Linked DNA regions of Homo sapiens. The protein of the gene in region 1 binds, or shares a complex with, the protein of each later gene. Each region holds a gene or a part of one and is shown in the gene's direction. Other genes may lie near its edges. The genes, in order: AIRIM and CINP.

Evidence for each region.
Region 2: the proteins of AIRIM (region 1) and CINP are in contact, whole or in part, in a cryo-EM structure (PDB 8RHN), measured with the Homo sapiens proteins. Residues at the interface, in NP_001289959.1 of Homo sapiens: Leu107, Gln110, Ala113, Ala114, Asn116, Leu117, Phe119, Val122, Ala124, Leu125, Phe128, Pro129, Asp130, Leu131, Arg134, Leu135, Lys138, Gln139, Ala142; in NP_116019.1 of Homo sapiens: Leu161, Leu162, Thr165, Glu169, Asp177, Leu178, Leu180, Ser181, Tyr182, Ser184, Met185, His188, Pro190, Tyr191, Val192, Glu193, Ser194.

What each region holds. Positions count from the first base shown.
Region 1 is NC_000001.11:37,687,306-37,694,778, reverse strand, and holds the start of AIRIM (AFG2-interacting ribosome maturation factor), read left to right. Parts: upstream 1-4,249; 5' UTR 4,250-4,380; coding exon of another isoform or gene 4,381-4,563; 5' UTR 4,564-4,777; intron 4,778-4,892; coding exon of another isoform or gene 4,893-4,898; coding exon 4,899-5,173; intron 5,174-7,473. Other genes in the region: CDCA8 (borealin), read right to left, coding at 1,746-1,874, 1,995-2,088. UniProt on the Homo sapiens protein: Part of the 55LCC heterohexameric ATPase complex which is chromatin-associated and promotes replisome proteostasis to maintain replication fork progression and genome stability.
Region 2 is NC_000014.9:102,359,663-102,367,649, reverse strand, and holds the start of CINP (cyclin-dependent kinase 2-interacting protein), read left to right. Parts: upstream 1-4,759; 5' UTR 4,760-4,798; coding exon 4,799-4,805; intron 4,806-7,987. UniProt on the Homo sapiens protein: Component of the DNA replication complex, which interacts with two kinases, CDK2 and CDC7, thereby providing a functional and physical link between CDK2 and CDC7 during firing of the origins of replication.

The sequences.
Region 1 (7,473 bases):
AACCAGAATACCTGGGTTCAAACAGACTATCCCACTAACTAGCTTATGAGGCCTTGAGCAAAGTGTCCAATTTCTCTGTGCCTTAATCTTGTCATTTTGAAAAATAGGGATATTATTAGTTATGAAGAAAAATTAGTTAATGTATGTAAAACACTTGGTACAATGCCCATCTGGCATAGAAAGCACAATATGCTCACTGACCACTACTCTATTCTATCTCCTTTGTAGTACCTATACTTTTAATTACATAATTGTATGTGGATTTTTCTAATAGCTCTTTTCTACTAATCTGTATGTTCCTGAAGGCAGAGACAATGTCTGTTTTATTCCCTAGTGCATCTTTAGCACCTAGCACTGTGACTGACACATGCTCAGTATTTGGAGAAATAAGCAAATGAATGGCTTAATAAATAAAAGGGCAAGTCAAAAGGATCATTCAATGTCTAATATGTGAGCAGACCATGCATTTCTATCCAGGAAGGAGACTACATGCTGGATAGTTAATAATAAGGAAAACAGAAAAGGGCAACCCAGCAGAAAAGTACAGCCTCCTGCATTTCTCCGGACATTTAATAAGGGAGTGCAGAAACAGGCTGGGATTTTTCTCTGGCCAGGAAAACTGATGTGTCTTTTTTTTTGAGACGGAGTTTCACTCTTGTTGCCCAGGCTGGAGTGCAATGGCGTGCTCTCAGCTCACCGCAACCTCTGCCTCCCAGGTTCAAGCGATTGTCCTGCCTCAGCCTCCAGAGTAGCTGGGATTAGAGGTATGCGCCACCACGCCCGGCTAACTTTTTTGTATTTTTAGTAGAGACAGGGTTTCTCCATGTTGGTCAGGCTGGTCTCGAACTCCTGACCTCAGGTCATCTGCCCGCCTCAGCCTCCCAAAGTGCTGGGATTACAGGCGTGAGCCACCACGCCCAGCCTGATGCGCCCATTTTTAGGTTAGCAATTTCCATAAGCTGCAGAAGGAGCTGCTTCGGGTTATTCTTCTATCTGAGCTCTGGTTAACTAACCATGTCATTTATTCATTCATTTTTAAATGGGTAAAATATACATATATTTTTAAAAATACTATTTTCTGGCCGGGCGCAGTGGCTGACTCCTGTAATCCCAGCACTTTGGGAGGCCTATGTAGGTGGATCACTTGAGGTCAGGAGTTCGAGACCAGCCTGGCCAACATGGTGAAACCCCGTCTCTACTGAAAATACAAAAATCAGCGGGGCATGGTGGCAGGCGACCGTAATCCCAGCCACTCCAGAGGCTGAGGCAGGAGAATCACTTGAACCCAGAAGGTGGAGGTTGCAGTGAGCAGGGATCGCACCACTGCACTGCACTGCACTCCAGCCTGGGTGACAGAGTGAGACTCTGTTTAAAAAAAATTAAATAAATTTCCTGATGTGTGAAAATTATGTGAAATTCACATTTCAGTGTATCCATAACTAAAATTTTATTGGAATACAGCCCATCCATGCCCATTCACTACAGCTGTTTTGGACCTGTAAACAGCAGAGCTGAGTTGTCCGACAGAGACCGCCCCGCCCGCCGCCCCCCAACCACCCCCCCATTTTTCATAGAGAAAAATGAAGTAGGGAAGTGAGACAGAGAGTGAAAGGGTCTGCAATTTTCCATAAGTGGTCATGTCAGATCTCATTAAAAGGTGACATCTGAGCGAGCCCTTTCTGAAGGGTGTCACCTAACCCCAAGGGGCTCCTGGCCTCCGCCCAGGGAAGCTCTCCAGCTCTTACCGAAGTAGTCAAGCCAGTTCATCTCGCGCAGAGCCTTGGGGAGCCGCAGGATCTCGATGTTGTAGAGGTTATCCACCTCCTTGAGGAGGTTCTGCCTGTCTGACTCAATTTGCTTGATTCGTATTTCCACTGCGGGAGGGCAGAGCCGACAGGACACGGGTCACGGGCGGGCGAATCTGTGCAGCTCGTGTCCCCACCCGCCAGCATCCCGCGACCGCCCCAGGAGGCCGCGACGGCCTGGCCCCTTACCTTCACGGTCGAAGTCTTTCAGAAAGGAGGCGAGCTTCCGCCTCCGTAAGGAGTTGGTCTTGGCCACCCGACTACTGCCCTTCCTAGGAGCCATGGCGCTCGGCGGAGGCTGCGGGGAGCGGCGGAGATGGGGCAGGGAAGCAAGAAACTGGGTAGGGACGAGGAGGGCGGACGGGGACCACCCGAAGAAGTCGCCAGGCACGTACCTGCGGTCCCGAGACAAGGGCTGAGCAAAACCTCGCTGTGCCAGTGAGAGAGAGCGGCTCTACAGTCAACCGCCACCCAATTCAAACTCCACAGTCACAGGCTGACGAATGAGAAGCCGCCGTCCCACAACATCCAATCACAAGCAAGTTCCTGCCGGCCCAGGGTCTTCCGCCCAATGCGCCCCCTATAGCCTGAGTGCGACAGCGAGGCCGCCGCCGTCGCGGGTACTCCTGGGAGTTGTGGTCCAGGCTTGTTTCCCCGCCCTCCCCACCAACCCACCCGGCTCCGCCCTGGCCGGCTGCGAACTATACAAACTACTACTCCCGGCAGGCCTTGTGGCGGCTCTGCAATACCCCAAGCTCTGGAGGGCTGGGGGCCTACTAGGTCAGGTCGGCTGTAGGATTCTGCTCCAGGGTTGGCGGCTGCTTCTTTCTGGCCTGGCTGCCACTGAGTAGCCGAGGGGCCGCCGTGACCCTCTGACTGATTGACTGGCTGGCTGCCTACGTCGGCGCTCCTCAGGGCCCCAAGCTCCTCAGGCCGAACTTCGGGCAAGTGGCGGGTCGGCAGAGACAGAGCAGCCCCGGCAGGGTTTGACAGAGCAAGGGGGACGGAATGATAGAGGAGCAGGGCAGGGGTGCAGGCTTTGGGGGGGGCGCGCTATCCCGCGGCCAGTCTGGGCAGCGAGTGGGGGGAACCCTGTCGTTCCTCGCTCCCCCGCGGGCCGGCCACTCCCGCCCAGTTCGCGTGTTGGCGCCTCGACTGGGTGCGCAGCGCGGGGCTGCGACTTCAGGTGCAAGTAGTGGCGCTTGGCAGCTGGCCACACGGTGACTGCAGCATGAGCCGCGGCCACCAGGCTCCAGGGAGCCCAGGGCAGGAGGCAGCTCTGGGTGTCGTGGCCGTGGGCCTGGGAATGGGCGTGTAGACGGCGAGCCCCGCCGAGCCGCGGTCCTGTCGGAGGTGCTAACTGTGCATCTTGGTATCTGCCCACGGCCACAGGGTTGGATTGCTCAAGAGTTGTGCTGAGACCCAGAAGGCTAGAGGCTAGTTTCGAAGCTGTAGCTCAGGCTGAGTCTCAAGGCGGGCGGCGACTGGACGGCCAGACCGGCGAGCTCTTGACGGGTTTGTGGCCTGATTGTTTGGATTTGGTGCTTTTCACCTGTGGATGCGGTCTGAAGCCATGTCAGAGGGGTTGTGTTTAAGCGTGCATGTTATAGGCTATGGGAGTGATAATCTTGCCTCTCCCCCTCTGAGTTGAGGAACAATCGAAGAAATAAGCAAAGGTGCCAAGCAGGCTCCTGATGGGCACCAGCGAGCTTGGGGACAGAGCAGTCCAAGCATAGAAGTCCTGGCAAGCCTGGACCTTCCTGGAAAGTCCTTTCTCTCTCTTCCACCCTGGTCTGTTGCTCCATATGCAACAAATATTTGAATGTCGCTCTTCCGCCCGAGGTCAGCCCTGGGCAGTGGGTAGTGGGGGTGACACCCCAGTCTGCTGGGTGCCTGAGGATCTCCATCAGTCAGATGGCCAAGATGAGACGGGATGACAACCCGTACCTCATGTAGGCTTTCCCCCTGCAGGTGTTTTTATGCTGCGCAAGTCGGGCTTCCAGCCTCTCGGTTTCAGGGTTTCCTTCACCCTACTCCCCAGTGAGCCCGAACTCCCTGGGCACCTAGGACGTCCACCTGCATTTTAGCCAGAGCTGCCACGTCAGGAGCCCGTGATTTACTAGTTTTTGCCAGTTGGTTGTGATACACAATGTCAAAAGTGTCATTAAGGCACAACCGGAGGCGCAAGATAAGAGGAAAAGACTCCACAGCTAACAGGACATGCCACCACCGCCACCCAATTTAAACTGCCGCAGGCTGACAAATGAGAAGTCGCCGTGTTTGGACGGTCCCAACATCCAATCCCAAGGAAGCTTCAAGCCGAGTGGCCAGTCCACATGTTGGACTACAGTACCCAGAAGTCATTGCGGCACTACGATATATTTTCGCGACTCAGTAGCCAGGCAGGCCCGCGGAGTAGCTTTGTGGGGAGGTCGCGTGTGAGCATGCGCAGAGAGACTGTGGGCGCGTGGTGCAGTCCCTGGAGGGTTCTCACGCTTTGGCTGTCTGGACTTTTAAGTTTTTCCGCTTTTTCAGGAAGGCGACCGGCAGCCTCGGGCAGGGGAGACAGGACTGTATGTCAGAGAAGAGACGGCGCTTGGACGCCAGGAATCCTCTGAAGCAGGAGACTGCCCTATCCAGGTTACCCTTCCCGAGGGGAAACCAGGGTCTCCTTCAGAAAGCTGAGGCAGGCCGGGCGCGGTGGCTCACGCCTGTAATCCCAGCACTTTGGAAGACCGAGGCGGGCGGATCACCTGAGGTCAGGAACCCCGTCTACTAAAAATACAAAAATTAGCCAGGCGTGTTGGCGGGCACCTGTATTCCCAGCTACTCGGGAGGCTGAGGCAGGAGAATTGCTTGAACCCGGGATGCGGAGGTTGCAGTGAGCCGAGATAGCGCCACTGCACTCCAGCCTGGGCGACAGTGAGACTCCGTCTCGAAAAAAAAACAAAAAAAAAACCCTGCTTCTGGAGGTGAGACAACTCCTGTCTGAACACGATAACAGAGATGACGCCCACCCTCGACCCAGTGCCTCCCCGACTGACTTGGCACCCCAACGTGGTTATTTTCTGTTTTTATCTTTTTCAGCAGAAGATGACTCAAGACCGGCCTCTGCTTGCCGTGCAGGAGGCGCTGAAGAAGTGCTTCCCCGTGGTGGAGGAGCAGCAGGGCCTGTGGCAGAGTGCCCTGCGGGACTGCCAGCCCCTCCTGTCCTCCCTCAGCAACCTGGCGGAACAGCTGCAGGCCGCACAGAACCTGCGGTTTGAGGATGTGCCGGCGCTTCGGGCCTTCCCAGATTTAAAAGAGCGGCTGAGGCGTAAGCAGCTGGTGGCTGGTGACATCGTCCTGGACAAGCTAGGGGAAAGGCTGTAAGCAGCTCCCTAGTGCTGTTTCTTGGTGGAAGGATTTTAAAACGAGGTGTTTTATATGTAGCTAGTGTCAGTCCAGAAGGTGTTTTTCTCCTTGAAAGCGTGGCATGTGGAGGTATCTCAACCTTCCTTACTTCATCTGGGGCAGTGGGACCTCGGTCAGAAAGCCATTTTCTGGCATTTTCTTTGTCAGAGACTAGGCATGGCAGTGGTGGGCTTAGTAGAAGTCACAAAAGAAGAAGAGAAAAGGAGCGGAGAAAGCCTATTAGCTCTGCCCTATAGTTTTCTTTGGTAAAAGGCAGTGAGGAGCTGTGTAAACTTAGTAGGTGCTAGAGCTAAGGGGTTTATGTATATTACGTTATAAAGTCTCTTCAACATATCTGTGACTTAACTGCACTTAATTCTATGCAGGTAGGAAACTGAAGCTTAAGCAGATTGCCCATGGTGACGCAGCTAGAAAAGGGTAGAGCTGGGATTCTAACTCAAGTGTGCCTGACACAAAGGCTAGAGCTCTTAATCACCACTTTGTTCTGCTGTAGATTGGTGTCTCTGTGCCCAGGAGTAGCACGTCTCCAAGTTCTGATATGCTTGTTGTCAGACCCAGTGCCTGCGTTACAGATTTTTTTTTTTTTTTTTTTTTGAGACAGGGTCTTGCTCTGTCACTCAGGCTGGAGTGCAGTGGCACAATCACAGCTCATTGTAGCCTCGATTTCCCTGGTTCAAGCGATCCTCCCACCTCAGCCCCCCAAGTACCTGGGACAACAAGCGTGCACTTCCATGCCCAGCTAATTTTAAAATTTTTTGTAGAGATAGGGTCTCACTATGTTGCCCAGGCTGAGAGTTACAGGTTATTGAGGACAGAGGGGAGACAGGGCATGTGTGGCCTTTCCTTGAACTGGAACAAAAGAAAGTTCCAGTATATAGAGTCTGTCATAGACTAATAGGAAACTGTCACAGATGAGGACTTTCCTTTTATTTATTTGTACAAAATACGTTCATTAGGCACCTTGTGGGATGCCAAGCACAAGGTGCCAAGAATATAAAAATGAACCAGATTTAGTTCCTGTTCTTAGTTGAGTAGAAGAAATAAACAATCAGTGAATTAAATTGTGGGATGTCCTAAGATATTGATAAGTACGGCTTGTGTGGAGTGGGGAAGTTTCTGGGGAGGAAGTGATATTAAAAACCTAATGGTTGAAAAGATGTAAACAGAGTCAAGACGTGGGTATGAGTAGTGTGCATAGAGAATAGTATGACTGGCCCGGCACGGTGGCTTATGGCTGTAATCCCAGCACTTTGGGAGGCAGATCACTTGAGGTCAGGAGTTCGAGACCAGCCTGGCCAACATGGTGAAACACCATCTCTACTAAAAATAAAAAAAGTTAACTGGCTGTCGTGGCACACACCTGTAGTCCCAGCTAAAGGGGAGGCTGAGGCAGGAGAATCTCTTGGACCTGGGAGGCAGAGGTTGCAGTGAGCCAAGACTGTCCCACTGCACTCCAGCCTGGGTGACAGAGCAAGACTCTGTCTCAAAAAAAGAGAGAAAAGTATGACAGGAGCAGAGGCCTGGTAAGAGATGAGATCAGCTGGGTATGGCAGCTCAGCCTGTAATCCCAGCACTTAGGGAGGCTGAGGCAGGAGGATCGCTTGAGCCTAGAAGTTTGAGACCAGCCTGGGCAACATAGTGAGATCCCATTCTCCATGAAAAGGAAAGCAAAACAAAAAAAAGATGAGGCCAGGTACGGTGCCTCACTCCTGTAATCCCAGCACTTTGAGAGGCTAAGGACAAGAGGATCATTTGAACCCAGGAGTGCTGTGAGTACCTATGAGTGCTTTACTTAATATTTTGTCTTTTATTTATTTTTATTTTATTTTTAGAGACAGTCTCACCCTGTTGCCCAGGCTGAAGTGCAGCGGTATGATCATAGCTTACTGTAGCCTCTAACTCCTCCTGCCAGCCTCCTGAGTAGCTGGGATTCCAAGAGCATGCCACCATACCTAGCTAATTTTTAAAATTTTTTGTGGAGATAGTCTTGCCATATTGCCCAGGCTGGTCTCAAATTCCTGGCTTCAAGCTGTCCTCTGGCCTTGCCCTCCCAAACTACTGGGATTACAGGCATGCCACTGCACCTGTTTTTTTTTTTAAATGTTTTAATTAAAAAAAAATATATATTAGCTGGGCACGGTGGCTCATGCCTGTAATCCTAACACTTTGGGAGGCCGAGGTAGGTGGATCACCTGAGGTCGGGAGTTCGAGACCAGCCTGACCAACATGGAGAAACCCCGTCTCTACTGAAAAA
Region 2 (7,987 bases), on another chromosome or scaffold:
GAATGGACAAACAAAATGTGATCTATCCACACAATGGAAGCCTGTTCAGCAATAAAAAGGAATGAAGTACTGATTCATGCTACAACACGGAGGAATCCTGAGAATATTATGCTAAGTGAAAGCAACCAGGCACAAAACACCATATATTATATGATTCCATGTATACAAAATGTCTAGAATAGGCAAGCTGTAGGCAGAGTAGGTCAGTGGTTGCCCAGGGCTGGGAGAAGAAGGGGTTAGGGTGTATTGCTGAAGGGTACGGAGTTTCCTTTTAGGGTGATGAGAAAGTTCTAAAATTGACGTAGTGACGGTTGCATAGCTGTGAATACAGTAAAAACCATTGAATTGTATATAAATGGGTGAACTGTGTGGCATGTAAATTATATCTCAATAAAGCTGTTACCCCCCAAAAAACAAAGGAAAATATCAGCTCCTTCAAAGAGAAATCAGACCATACTACCCATTCTACTCAAAACTCCTCACTGGTTGCCCAGTGCTCTAAGAATAAAAACCAAATGCCCCGTGTGGTCTAAGCCCTTTGCAGCTCCCCTGTCACCTCTCTACCCGTCTCCACTTGTCCTCCAAGTTCTAGCTCCACTGACCCACTCTGTCCCACTCAGGTGTCATAATTATTTCCTCTATGCAGAATAAATGATCTCACTCCATTTATCTGGCTTCTTCTCAACTGTGGGGTCTCAGCTTAAATATCACCACCACAGAAAGGCCTTCTCTGACCAGATCACTCAAGAGTACCCAACTGTCCCTTCTTTCCTCTATCATATGTGCTTCATAATCCTCATTACAACCTCTAATTGCTTTATTTGCTAAACCATTTAAAAATCATCTCTCCTACAAGAATGTAAGCAACATGAATTCTCTCTTGCTTACCAAGGTAAATCCTAGTATCTAATAATAGCTTTGGCACAGAGTAGATGCTCAGTAAAGATTTGTTAACTTCAGGTCTTACTGCAAAACAATAGTCTCAATCCAATTTTTAAAATTGGGCTGGGCATGATGGCTCACGCCTGTAATCCCAGCACTTTGGGAGGCCGAGGTGGGAGGATTGCTTGAGGCCAGGAGTTCGAGACCAGTCTGGCCAACATGGCGAAACCCATCTCTACTAAAAAATACAAAAATTAGCCAGGTGTGGTGGCGCACACCTGTAATCCCAGCTACTTGGGAGGCTGAGGCAGGAGAATCACTTGAACCTGGGAGGTGGAGGCTGCAGTGAACCAAGATCGTGCCACTGCACTCCAGCCTGGGTGACAGAGTGATATTTCATCTCAAAAATAAATAAATAAATAAAAATATAATGAATAATGCTTCCTTAGTCATGACTATTTCAGTTAAAAAAATACAAAACACCACCCTATGGCATCCTTCAAGTTACGATGCTTCCTTTCCCCACTAGCCCTGTCAATCTCATAACCCTGGAAGGTGGCAGCTAGCCTTCACTGCTGACTACTAACACCCAACTGCCACCCAGATGGATGATTTCTCAAACTGGAGCTAGGACTAATATAGAGTCTAAGTCATCCACTTCGCTGTACAATAACCATGTTATCAGAGTGCTCTGGGTACACTAATGGTTTCAGGATTCTCTCCAAAATCCCTAGGAAGCAACAATTTGTATCCCTATTGTAGAATCTATGTTTGAAATCTGGCTACGACATCTATTAATTATTTGAGTATTAAATTATTAAGGAGGAACGTAATGAGACTGAGGCAGTCATTTATCTTCCAGACAAAATTTTGTCACTTCCTTGCTCCCATCCCCATTGGCTACCCAATGGTCACAAGCTAAAGCCTAACACAAGCATGGAAATTAGACACTATGACAAAACAGTCTATATCTAACTTCATCTCAGGCCACTCTTCCATCCACACACTGTGCACTCCCTACCCTTTAGCAATCACCCCTCTACACGCTTCTTCTCTCAGCCCTGGGCAACCACTGATCTCCTCTCTGTCTACAGTTCGCCTATTCTGGAGATTTCATCAAAATTGAATCATATAATATGTGGTATTTTGTGTCTGGTTGCTTTCACTTAGCCTAATGTTCTCAAGGTTCCTCCATGTTGTAGCACAAATCAGTACTTCGTTCCTTTTTATTGCTGAACAGCCTTCCATTGTGTAGACAGGCCACGTTTTGTTTGTGCATCCATCAGCTTTCCATCACAGTCCCTGCACACACCATAACCTGTATGTCTCTGCAGAACAAAGTCCCTTTCCACTCTTCCCTATTCCCCCACATGTGCCCTGTAAGAACTAGTCCTCCGCCACCAGGAAGCCTTCATAAATTCCCTCAGATACTTGGTTGGTCTTTCTCTGCTTTCACAGAACTCCATGATGGCAGTTATCGCACAGCACCATCATTATCTGTTTTCTCTCCCCTTCAATGGACTCTTTCTCATCTTCACCTATGTTCTTCTAGTCTGTATACTTTGTGGTGCTTTAAAAGACCAATAAAGAGTATGGTACAATCAATGCTCAATACACGTTTGTTGAATGAATCTCTCTCTCAAAGCACTGTGCTAGATTCACCCAAGTATGACAGCCCTAAATATAAAATAGTGGCAAAAAGTCAATAGAACTCTTATGTCCAGGTCCAAAGAATACATTCATTTTAAATTGAACATGCATCTTGAGTAACAGCTCCCTTCTACCTTAGCAATTCGCAAAGCCATCAACTACTCCCTTCTAATTTTACTGATCTCTCTGTGCATTACTGAATCTAGAAATCTCTTCGTGCTTGACACCAAAGCTTTTCATTATAACCCTTTCCTGATCTATTCCTCATCTTCCCAAGTTCAATCAACTGCCTCTGCCTGATGCCTGTTTCCTTCCTTTTCTTCCCACTAAGTTCCAGTAGCCATTTTTTTCAACTCCTACAGCGGCTAATATGAAATGAAATTCTCCCCAAACTTAAGTGTAACTTCTTTAAGAAAAAATTGGAAAAAAAAATCCAGTAGATGCCAGTCTTCTATTGAAAAAGACACGTGGGTATAATATAGCTGATGCCTAACAAAAGCTACTTCCTAGTCACTCCTTCAGAAGAGGGTTATCCTCATTCCATCTTCCCCACCACTGGTTTTCCAAGGCAGTCCTGAAAATTCAATTTGTGTGTCCCCTACACCTGCACTTAGTTCTCCCTTTTAAAGTTCATGGGCCAGACCATGATCTTTCTGAGGCAGTGACCTCAGGAAGGGTCTGTCTGGTTCACCACAGCATCCCTAGAGCCAGCCTGGCACAGTGCTGGCACACGATGGCCAAATAACCACCAATATGGGACGTAAGTCAGGTTAACAACAACAACAACAAAAATAAGGTCAGAGGTTTATCAAGGTACATTATAGCTGGGTGTGAGAAAACACAAAGTCCTGCAGCCTAAAAGACCAGGAATCGCTGGTGATCACAAGGAGCTACAGTGGCTTCATTCCCAGATTCTACCTATGCCTGGGATTTGCGTTTTGAGATTTCCCAGAACTCTGTCTACAAGACCTTGGCTGCAAGGAGGCAGTCCACAAGTGCAACTGGTCACTCCAATAGATGAGAAAAGGATGCACCCAGGCTGGTATCCCACATTCTGCCAACACATGGAACATAAGTCACAGAACAGAATAAAATTCCTGAATCCCAATAAGAGAGGAAGAAAAAAGTGCAGGGAAGAGAAATGGAGGTAGAGAAGGAGAAACTAAAGTCATGAGAAGTCAGAGACATATCAGAAGGGACTAGAGGGCGAGAACGCAGGCTAGCACAGATGACAGCAGGGGCTCCCCTTTACTGAAATGTACAGCGGCAGGCACCGTGCTTAACTTTACATGCACTGACCCATTTAATCCTCTTACCAAGCCAGAGGTAGAAACTATTCTCATCTCCATTCCACTGGTGATGAAACTGGAGCGGAGTGAGGTAGGGCACTTGCCCCAGCACAGAGCTAGGAAGGGGCCGCTGGGACCTGCCCGGCTCTGACTCCAGGACACCCCATCCTTTAACACTTACTACCTATTCTGCCTCCCATGCCTTCAAATAGGATTGGGAAAGGAGTCATTCACTTATCCACTCATCGAACACTGAACACCAACTGGATGAGTGTCAAGGCCTGGGGCCAGGCGCCGGTGGGCGGATGTAAGGGACGCGGGCTGCGAGTGGGGGACAGAACACGACGTCAATCTTAAGGCGAAGGAGCAGAGCCCGCGGCCAGACCGGCAGCCGGGATGCAGGGTGGGGCCGGGGGCCGAGGGCGCGGGACGCGCAGCGGAGGCCTGAGGAGGGGCGGGCGGCCCCTGTTCCCCGCTGCGGACCGCCGGATTCTGCGGGCGGCGAGCCAGGCGCTCCGTGTGTTGTGGCATTTAGTGTCCGCCACTCCGCGCGGGCGAGACCGCGGGCGAGGGAGACGGGGCGGACGGGCATGGAGACCCTGCGGGGCTGAGGCAAGGGAAGAGTGGCCCGGGGGAGGCCGAGGAGGGGCTCGGGGCCAGGCGTCGGGGGCGTCGGGGGCGTCGGGGCCGCTTGCGGCGTCGCCGGACTCACCTCCCGCGGCAGCCCCTCCGGACTCGTCGGCCCCGCCGGGCCGGAGGAGGCGGGATGGACTCCGGGCCGCGGGGGCTGCCGGGAGCCTGTTCCCTGGGCAACGGGGCCGGCACCGGGGCCAGCACCGAAGAGCAGCAGCTGGCTCCGCCGGGGGCTAGAGCGGCAGAGCCACAAGTGGCAGCGGGCGGGGCGGACGTGACGCAAATGCGTTTCCGGTGGGGTGGGCGGGGCTTCGCGTCTCCTTCTACGGATATCTGTGGACCTTATGGAAGGTGCGTGAGATCGGTTCCTTTCCCGGGGTGGGGTGGCTGTGAATGTTACTGCTTAGGCCGCAGGTTGGACCAGAAGCTCAGGAGCTCCCCGGATTACATGAGGTTAAATGGAGGTCCTCTGTCTTACCCCAGCCTAGCCCGCAGGCCCCTCGCAGCCTCTGCGAGCTGCTCGGGAGACAGTTTTGCCGAGCCTCCGTTTTTTCACATGTGCAGTGACAGATGAACGGGACGATATACGCAAATGAGTGTCAGCAGATCCGACATCCAAATTGTAATTATTGTCACTATAAATTAGTACTAACAGAGTTCACTGGGTACCAAGCCTTGCATGCTCATCTCGTCCAGAAACTCCTCTCTGAACTGCCCTCAGTCAGAACATTCTGCTTGTAATGAAAGCTGGCTTTCGCCTAGTGCTCAGTTTGCTGAGTACTGCTCCAAGCACTTTAAGTGGATCATCTCATTTGAACCTCACAGTGGTCCCATGAAGTAATGTCAACCCCATTTTGCAGATGGGGAATCGAGGCTCAGAGGGGATAAGTAACTTAGCCACTGTGCCCTCACCCTACCCTGTCCTGTGACGCTGATGACTGGTCTGTCTTTACCAGCCCTTGAGTTTCTTGAAGTCAGTTATGTTTTTGGTTCCTAAATATGTGCCCCGTATGAGTCAGGCTGACCATGAATCAGATGTGATCCTGCCCTCAGAATCTCCTGTTGGGGGGAAAACCCTTAGACAATTATAGAACAGGTGGTAAGAGCTATTCCTCCATTTACCTCATTTTATGCAAAGCCTCCTATGTGTGGAAGGTTTGAAAGAGAACGAGACATAGTTCCTACCCTAGTCGAATTTCCAGTTTAGCAGGGAATATAGACATTAAACAAGCAAATACACTCCACTGGTGAATATCATGATAGCAGAATTATAGGGTGTACCACATATCTAGTGGTGAGTCGTAACCCAACCTGGGGGATCCAGGAATACTTCTCTGTGGAAATGACTTTCTAAAAACCTAAATCAGATAATTTCACTGCCCTATCCAGAGCTCATTGCTCACTCCCCATTGTATTAGGTTGGTGCAAAAGTAATGGCAATTTTGGCTGTTAAAAGTAATGGCAAAATCTGTTACTTTTGCACCAAGCTAATACTTAGAAGTCCAAACTTCATTTTTTTATTTTGTTTTGTTTTGTTTTGTTTTGTTTTGTTTTTGAGACGGAGTCTCGCTCTGTCACCCAGGCTGGAGTGCAGTGGCGCGATCTGGGCTCACTGCAAGTTCCGCCTCCCGGGTTCACGCCATTCTCCTGCCTCAGCCTCCTGAGTAGCTGGGACTACAGGCGCCCGCCACCACGCCCGGCTGATTTTTTGTATTTTTTTAGTAGAGATGAGGTTTCACTGTGTTAGCCAGGATGGTCTCGATCTCCTGACCTCGTGATCCGCCCGCCTTGGCCTCCTGAAGTGCTGGGATTACAGGCGTGAGCCACTGCCCTCGGTCCAACTTCTTATCTTGGCCTATTAGGTTCTAGTTGTCTGATCACCTACTCACGCACTAGTCCTTTTCTGTCTATTTCATTCCAGCACACTGGTTTTTTTGTTTGCTTGTTTGTTTTGTTTTGTTTTCTGTTTTTTGAACTCACCAACCTCATTATCATAATTAGGGCACATACTACTGACCTACCCTATTTCTGGCTTTTCATCATTCAAATCTCAGCCTAAACGACACCTTCTCAGGGGATCACACTAACACAAGACCCTGTTTTATTTTCCACACACACTTAATCATGATCTGAACTGATCGTGGTCATTTGTTTATTATCTGCCTCCCCTTTGGAAAGTAAGTTCCATGAAAACGGTCCTGGTCCGTCTCATTCAATCACTTCATTCCCCCATGCCTGGCGTATTGTAGGCAGTAAGCAAATATTTGTTGTTTAAGTAAAGAATGAATGATAAATCAAGATGATATTTTAAAGTGAGGATACTAAGTATGAGGCAGGGGAGTGGGGACACACACAGATAGGAAAAATATTCCAGGTCAAAGTCAGAACTTGTACAGAGCCAGCTCTGATGCACAGAGGGCAAGTGGGAAAGGGTAGAAGCTGAAGTGGTGGGCAGAGCTTGGATAGTAGAGGCCCTTGAGCTAACAGGTGAGATACTGGGTTTTTGCCTTGTGCGAGGCCTCACAGCTTCACATATATTATCTAATCTCAGCAATCCTATGAAATAGATACTATTTTTATTCCCATTTTACAGATGAAAATGTTGAGGCTCTGAAAGGTACATTAAGTTGCCCAAGATCTCACAGCTGGCGAGCTGGGGTTCAGACGCAGGCAGTGTGGTCTTCTGACTTGAGGCATCAAACCATCCAGCTGTTGTGTGTCCTGGATTCCTCAAGAGGACTTTATCCTGTGGGCAGTGAGAAGCCTTTGTGGGGTTCAAAGTAGAGAAGGCAAGAGGGCACAGGAGGGTTCGGGGAGAACAAACAACCTGAGTTGGCTCTTGGTGGTCTGGGGGTTGCTTCCTACAGGCAGTGGGATCCGGGTGCATCTTGGAGGATGGGCATCGTGAGCCTGAGGAAGGAAGGAGCTTTCCTGCAGAGAGAACACGTGTAAAGGCCTGCAGGCACCTCAGCTTTTCAAGAGCTGCCAGTAGTTCATTTTCGCTGGATATTGACGGGGGGCCAAGGTGTGGGTTGATGTACGTGATGATGTGGAGGGGTAGCTAGGTCTGGAAGGATTTTGGACTTCCTCCTGATTACCAAGAAGGGCAGTGGCAGCATCGTGATCAACTCTGCATCTCTGTTGTCTCAGTGTCTTGAAATGATTAGCACTCATGGGCCACGCTACTCTGAGCAAATTTAAAGTATCAGAGTGCCTGAGACTAGATAGTGGAAGTACTCGGGAGTCAGGGCTAGATTATCCTGTAGGGAAGGGAACGTGAGCCATTGAAGAGTTTTAGCAGACAGTCACAACTTTACCTTATTTCCAATCTTTGGAAAACAAAGGGCTTAAGGTAAAAACTTTGTGGAGCCATTAAGCTGGAAGAGGATTCAGCTCTATCTGGTGAATTTTAAAATGTTAAAAATATTCTATATTGTCTTCTTCCAGGAACTTTCACATTCATTCAGACTTTGTAGTTTCCACATTTATTTGTCCAGTTGATACAGCATTTCAGATAGTTTTACTGTTGAAAA